Homo sapiens: one gene and its partner. The protein of the gene in region 1 purifies or fractionates together with the protein of each later gene. This does not show direct contact. Each region holds a gene or a part of one and is shown on either strand. Other genes may lie near its edges.

The links. The genes of interacting proteins can lie anywhere in the genome.
Region 2: the proteins of ENPP6 (region 1) and NDUFB3 purify together in Homo sapiens (affinity purification with mass spectrometry; 3 studies listed by BioGRID and IntAct, with this or other methods). This does not show direct contact.

What each region holds. Positions count from the first base shown.
Region 1 is NC_000004.12:184,092,254-184,095,908, forward strand, and holds part of ENPP6 (glycerophosphocholine cholinephosphodiesterase ENPP6 precursor), read right to left. Parts: intron 983-3,655; exon of another isoform or gene 1-982. UniProt on the Homo sapiens protein: Choline-specific glycerophosphodiesterase that hydrolyzes glycerophosphocholine (GPC) and lysophosphatidylcholine (LPC) and contributes to supplying choline to the cells.
Region 2 is NC_000002.12:201,074,994-201,078,648, reverse strand, and holds part of NDUFB3 (NADH dehydrogenase [ubiquinone] 1 beta subcomplex subunit 3), read right to left. Parts: intron 1-3,655. UniProt on the Homo sapiens protein: Accessory subunit of the mitochondrial membrane respiratory chain NADH dehydrogenase (Complex I), that is believed not to be involved in catalysis. Complex I functions in the transfer of electrons from NADH to the respiratory chain.

The DNA.
Region 1 (3,655 bases):
AGCCATGGCGATGGTTTCCTAAATACATTTGGAAGATGAGTGGAACACTCTTTGGGAGCATTTTACCAACAGATAAAATACATTAGCCATGTGGAAAATGAGCAAACTGGTATCTGAATCAGGGATCCATGTGCAGGCTCTGAGCGATCTAATGGAGAAGACCACTGTGCCTCTGCCCAGAGTGGCCCCAAGCTCGAGAGTCACGCAAGAACACACAGGTAGGGTGGCCACACGCAGCACGGTGAGTGAGGGACGCCGAGGGTGACTCCACAAGTCTTTGGAGGGATTTCAATCAAGGGATTTCTTCTTCTCTACAGCGGGCAGATGAGAGGCAGAATTCAAAGCACTTGTCCATTTAAAGAGTGAATGTAAGATTTTAGTAATACACAAAAGCAACTTCACTTTTAGGCCCCAAACCAGAGCTTGTAACAAAATACCCAATGCTACATTAAGGTTGAATTCAGGGAGGAGATTTAAGCCATTGATAAAGGCCTGTGCCTGTGCTTTCTAGTTCCCCTACAACTTTTGAAGGAAATGAGTTGTTTGGGGGCCGTAAAGCCAAGTTTTTTAAGATATTAGAAATAATCTTTGTAATTGCTTTGCTAAAGAATCCTAAATACTTTAGTTAAAAAGCAAACAAACAACAACACACAGCAATATATTGCAGAGGTATCAACACCAAATTCTGCTCCTCTATTTATCCTGGAATTATAAATTGGAAAAAAGCTAAATATAGATACTTCTGCCACATAGTATGTTAGATCCAGGGCAACTGCCCAAATAGCACGTTTTGCTCCCTTTGGAGAATTAAAGTTGAATCCAATATAAAGAGGTGTGTGGGCTCTACCGCCAGCCTGCACCCAGCATGCACTAGCTGGGTGACCTCCGGAAATAGGCATAGAAAGTCATCGTTCCTGGAACACTGTGTATACCCAGTAAATGGTCACTACTATTATTAATAAATATTTATGACAAGGACAAATTGTGGTTTGAATATATTCACTTTCTAAATTATCTGGAGGGTTTACTTTTCTTCAGGGGCATGGAGGATAAGGGTCAGCTTCTCCTCAGAGTAAAAATTAGTTTTAAAAAATGTAAAACCTGGCCAGGCACAGTGGCTCACACCTGTAATCCCAGCACTTTGGGAGGCCGAGGTGGGCAGATCACATGAAGTCAGGAGTTCAAGACCAGCCTGGCCAACATGGTGAAACCCCGTCTCTACAAAATTTACAAAAATTAGCTGGGTGTGGTGGCAGGTGTCTGTAATCTCAGCTACTCAGGAGGCTGAGGCAGGAGAATTGCTTGAATCCAGGAGGCGGAGGTTGCAGGGAACCAAGATCGTGCCATTGCACTCCAGCCTGGGCAACAGAGCAAGACTCTGTCTCAAAATAATAATAATAATAATAATAATAATAATAATAATAATAATAATGTAAAACCTGTCCAGAGAGGAGAAAGAAAGGGCTGCCCCAGTATCCCAGCCCCTCTCAGGCAGATCAGACAATCAGATGAGGATGGTAGTTACACTTCCCTATCCGAGGAATCAAGTGCAGCACGAGAATCCAGTGGAATGGTTGTTCCAGCGGCATGGAAGCAACTCTTCTATCTTCTTCTCATGTGACCTGGATGTGATAATTCTACTGCCACATGGGGCCATGCCTTGCTGTGTGTGGGTGGGAGGGCATGTGAGGCAGTGGACCAGAGTAAGCCCAGGTGTCCCACAGGCTTTCAAATATCCATTTGTGGCTGGGCACTATGGCTCACACCTGTAATCCAAGCACTTTGGGAGGCTGAGGCAGGAGGATGGCTTGAGGCTGAGGAGTGCAAGACCAGCCTGGGCAATATGGCAAGACCTCAACTCTGCAAAAATAAAAAATTAGCTAGGTGCGGTGGTGTGTGCCTGTAGTCCCAACTACTCAGGAGGCTGAGGCAGGAGGATCTCTTGAACCCAGGAGATGGAGGCTACAAGTAAGCCATCATGCCACTGCACTCCAGCCTCGATGACAGAGAAAGACCATCTCTAAAAAACAAAACAAAACAAAAATCCTCTTCTTTAACACTTCACAGGAAAAACTGAGATCAAATTCTTCTGACAAAAGTATTAGAAAATATTATCTTTTTACACTGGAAATATGAAATCGAATTCTGTGCATTTAAGCATAAAGGAGGATTGAGATTTCTTTCCCATCCCACCTAGTTCGTGGCCTCCTGCTGCGCAGGGATAGTGCTTTGGGCTCAGTGCAGAAATAATCCAGGCTGGAATGAGAAAGCTTTTAGAAAATTCCTGAAGAGCAAAACAATGCCTGATCCAACTGAGGACCCAGACAGGCTCTACTAGCTGAAGATGGCATTTCAGACATGGACAGAGAGTCCAAGTTATCCTCGCGTGTTTACATTTTTTTGGATATGAGAGGTGTGTCTCTTACAGAGAGGAGGTTCTGCAGGCTTACACTGTGGCTGGCCACCTGGGGCTGCCTTCCCAGTGGGGCTTGCTAGCTCGCAGGCAGCTCACTGACTCCCACTCCTGCTGTCTTATCTCAAACGTGGAGTTCTCCAGGGCAAGATTAGACTGTTCAAATTAGAAACTGGGATTAACAAGAGTGAGGCTCTCCTGCAGAATTACTTCCCTTTCTCTTTGCTGGACCAGACTCACTGACTTCTGAGGCTGCATCTGGGCAGCCGCAATGATGCCCAGCTTTCCCCCTAAGGGAGAAGCACATACAGTTAATCAGGAGGGATGCACCTTTATCTCAAAGTGCAGCCAGATAGCTATTAAAGGCCTTGCTCTTAAATTTTCTTCTCAGTAAACAGCCAGTGTGTAAAGCTGTTTAATCTTTCATGAGAACTGGAGCCAGAACGTGATGGTTTGCGGGAGGCTCTCCACGCTGTATCTGCCTGGAAACATTTTGCAATTAGCGCAGTCCATTTTCATCAGGGGTCATCTATCTGTCTGTAAAAGACTGGGCGCTTTTAGTGTTACAGGAACCTGTGATGGAGGCCTCTGTTAATGGACAGAATCTCTTCACCAAATTTTAACTTTAAGCTAATGCAGCTTTGGGGACCTTGTTTAAAATTTGGGGTTTGGGGCTAGATTTGGTTCTGCTTTAAAATATTCCTGAGACTCGGCTGGGCGTGGTGGCTCACGTCTGAAATTCCAGCACTTTGGGAGGCTGAGACAGGCAGATCACCTGAGGTCAGGAGTTTGAGACCAGCCTGGCCAATATGGTGAAACCCCATCTCTAAGAAAAATATAAAAATTAGCCAGGCGTGGTGGTGGGCTCCAGGAATCCCAGCTATTGAGGTGGCTAAGGCAAGAGAATTGTTTGAACCCAGGAGGTGGAGGTTGCAGTGAGCTGAGATGGCACCATTGCACTCCAGACTGGGTGACAAGAAACTGTCTCAAAAAAAAAAAATATATCTATATATATATATAGATATATATATTCCTGAGACTCTCACTTGTATATAGTCCTTCCCAGACCACTGCTTTGCATTCATGATCCTATTTCCCTCATCTGGGAATGGAGGGTGCCATGCTTTTGAATGAAAGCCTTGCTGACTAATGTTCTCACAAAGAAAGACCATGGCCCTGGAATGTATCCAATGTAATCCAGTAGTTACCCTCGGGGTGCTCCATTCCTAATTCCTTTAGCTT
Region 2 (3,655 bases), on another chromosome or scaffold:
CATCACTCAGAGATAACCATTTACTATCTGGTTCTTTTCTTCATTATAATAATAGTAAACATTTGCTAAAATGCTTTATGTGTATTAACTCCAATACCTCTAAAACAACTCTTTATAAATAGTAAACATATGCTAAAATGCTTTATGTGTATTAACTCCATTACCTCTAAAACAACTCTTTGAACTTAAATAATGAGTATCCCCATTTTACAGATGAGGACAATGAGACTCCAAGCAATTAAGTAACTTTCCAAAGGTAACAAAAATAGTAATGGTACAGCTGGGATTAGAACCTTGCAGTTTGGTTTTAGAACCCTGCTCCTAACTTCTTCTTCTTCTTATTTTTTGAGACGGCGTCTCGCTCTGTCGCTCAGGCTGGAGTGCAGTGGTGCAATCTTGGCTCACTGCAAGCTCCGCCTCCCGGGTTCACGCCATTCTCCTGCCTCAGCCTGGCGAGTAGCTGGGACTACAGGTGCCCGCCACCACGCCCGGCTAATTTTTTGTAATTTTAGTGGAGACGGGGTTTCACCATGTTAGCCAGGATGGTCTGAATCTCCTGACCTCGTGATCCACCCACCTCAGCCTCCCAAAGTGCTGGGATTACAAGTGTGAGCCACCGCACCCGGCCCCCTGCTCCTAACTTCTAAGCAATATTGTTTTCCTTTTGAATCCTTTCATAATGCATAAATATGTATAATAAAAAGGTTATACATCCTGTTTTAAAAATTTTCTTTAGATGATTCTTTTAAAATGCAATGCTTTTAAATACATATGATTACATGAAAGGTTTCTTTAAAGAGGCAGATCGTAAATATTTTAGGCTTTGTGGGTAAAAGAGGTAAAATTGAGGCAATTATGTAGGTACATTTATAGGAAGAGAAAACACACTACCGCAAATACCTTATTGATAAAATTCAAAATGTAGTAAGTAACTGACTACAAATTTTTTTGTAATACAGGTCTACTGACGAAAAAAATGGAACTCCCCTTTTGGGGGTAACATTCTACTTAACTGGAGCTCAAAGTTAGTGATCCTTAGCATCAAAGTCATTACAAATGTTCATTTGTAAAAACCATTCTTAGCTCATGGACCTTACAAAAACAGGCACTGGGCTGGATTTGGTCCACAGGCTGCAGTTTGCCGATCCCTGAACTGGGCCAACAGATACCTTAGGACTCCTTTTTAATCAATAAATTTGCTTCCTTAATTAAAACATGTCCTCAATGGTTATATAAATACTTTGGTTTTACTAGTGTTATTTTAATATATAATATAAAAATAAACCAGCTCAGTCCTCATTTAAATTGCTAATTCAAATTAAGGGGTATGGCTTAGTAACACTATACTATAATTTGTGTAAGGTTGGCAGTAGCAATCCTTTTATTTTTTTTTACATTTTTATTTTTCTAATTACTTGGCAAGCAGTAGCAATTCTATAATCACTGCTTTTCCGGAAGTAAAATCAAGTAAATATTACCATTATGTCCATATTTATAACTATGAACAGGCCCAATAAGGTAGGATTTCTTTTCTTTTCTTTTGTTTTTGAGATGGAGTTTTGCTTTTTGCCCAGGCTGGAGTGCAATGGTGTGCAATCTCGGCTCACTGCAACCTCCGCCTCCTGGGTTCAAGCGATTCTCCTGCCTCAGCCTCCTGAGTGGCTGGGATTACAGGCATGCGCCACCATGCCCGGCTAATTTTGCATTTTTAGTAGAGATGGAGTTTCCCCATGTTGGTCAGGCTGGTCTCGAACTCCTGACCTCAGGTGATCTGCCCGCCTCCGCCTCCCAAAGTGCTGGGATTACAGGCGTGAGCCACTGTGCCTGGCCTGGTAGGAATTCTTACATTGCATCTCAGAAGAGAGAGGTAATTATTAAAAAGTGTATATTAAAGACACATTATTGGGAGGCTGAGGGATGAGAATCGCTTGAACCCAGAAGGCAGAGGTTACAGTGAGCCAAGATGGTGCCACTGCACTCCAGCCTGGGCGACAGAGTGAGACTCTCTCAAAAAATAAGTAGTTCCAAGATATGAGAAAAAAATTGTACATACTAACTGTGAAAAACCAACACTTATTATTTGTAAACATGTTAAGATACTAAAAAACATTATGTTGATGATTTTCACATTTAATTATATATATATATATATATATATATATATTTAAAGATAGAGGGTCTTGCTCTGGATCATAGCTCACTGCAGCCTCAAACTCCTGGGCTCAAGTGATTGTCCTGCCTCAGCCTCCTGAGTAGCTAGGACTGGAGTGTGCACAACGCCTGGCTAGTTTTTAAATGTTTTATAGCGATGGACCCTCCCTATGTTGTGCAGGCTGGTCTCAAACTCCTGGCCTCAAGTGATCCTTGATCCTCTGGCATAGGCCTCCCAAAATGCTGGGATTACAGTGGGATTACAGCCACACCCAGGAGGATTTTCACATTTAAATGAAAATGAAAATGAAAACCGATACTCTCAAACACAAGTTAAAATTACAACACAACTCTGAATGAAACATTTAACCCATTATTACTTGGTAGATTCAATAAAATGAAGGAAAAAAATTATGGTGTCAGACTTCAGACTGACTTTTGAGACTGAATACATTTATTACAAACGAAGACCATTACAAGTGTTTATTTAGAATGATAATGTCTTGGCTTCTGCATACCATGTTTTCAAAAAATCTTTTTTAAAATAAGGCTTCATTTTAAAAACACTTAAAACAAGACAAACCCTTATTTTGGCAAATGTCAATTCTAGAATATCAACCTGAGTATCAGTGTATTTGGAAGAGAGTATAAAACAAAGGGTCAAGAATTTTGATAGAATAGTTTTTGAAAATAAAACTTGAAACATTACCATGGTATAAAGACTATTTCAAAATTACAATACTACTGTGCTTAAACAAGTAATTTGAAAGATAAATCTTTGAAAGAAAACATGAAAGCGTACATACCCTCATTTCTCCTATACAAGTTTATTTAAATACATTCAATGTATTTTCTCTTCTACCTAATTATTTCAGAAGTATCCTTTTCATAGGAATTTACTAAATATACCTTTTTTTTTTTTTTTTTTTTTTGAGACAGAGTCTCGCTCTGTCGCCCAGGCTGTAGTACAGTGGCGCAATCTTGGCTCACTGCAACCTGTGACTCCCAGGTTCAAGCAATTCTCCTGCCTCAGCCTCCCGAGTAGCTGGGACTACAGGAACCCCCCACCACGCCTGGCTAATTTTTTGCATTTTGTAGTAGAGATGGGGTTTCACCGTGTTAGCTAGGATGGTCTCGATCTCCTGACCTTGTGATCCGCCCACCTGGGTCTCCCAAAGTGCTGGGATTACAGGCATGAGCCACGGTGCCCGGCTAAATATAACATATAAATGACTTTTCAAAAAGAGCAGAAAGTTGAAAACACTTTCTCTAGGAAACCTTTCATTTTCTTTTTTCTTTTTCTTTTTTTTTTTTTTTTCAGACAGGATCTTCCTATGTTGCCCAGGCTGCTGTTGAACTCCTGGCCTCAAGCATTCCTCCCTCCTTGGCCTCCTAAAATATTGGGACTACAGGCGTGAGCCATGGCACCTGGCCCATTTTTCTTTTTAAACTTATTTCTATTTCCAAATAGCCATAAATCAAACAATGATATCGTGACCTGTAA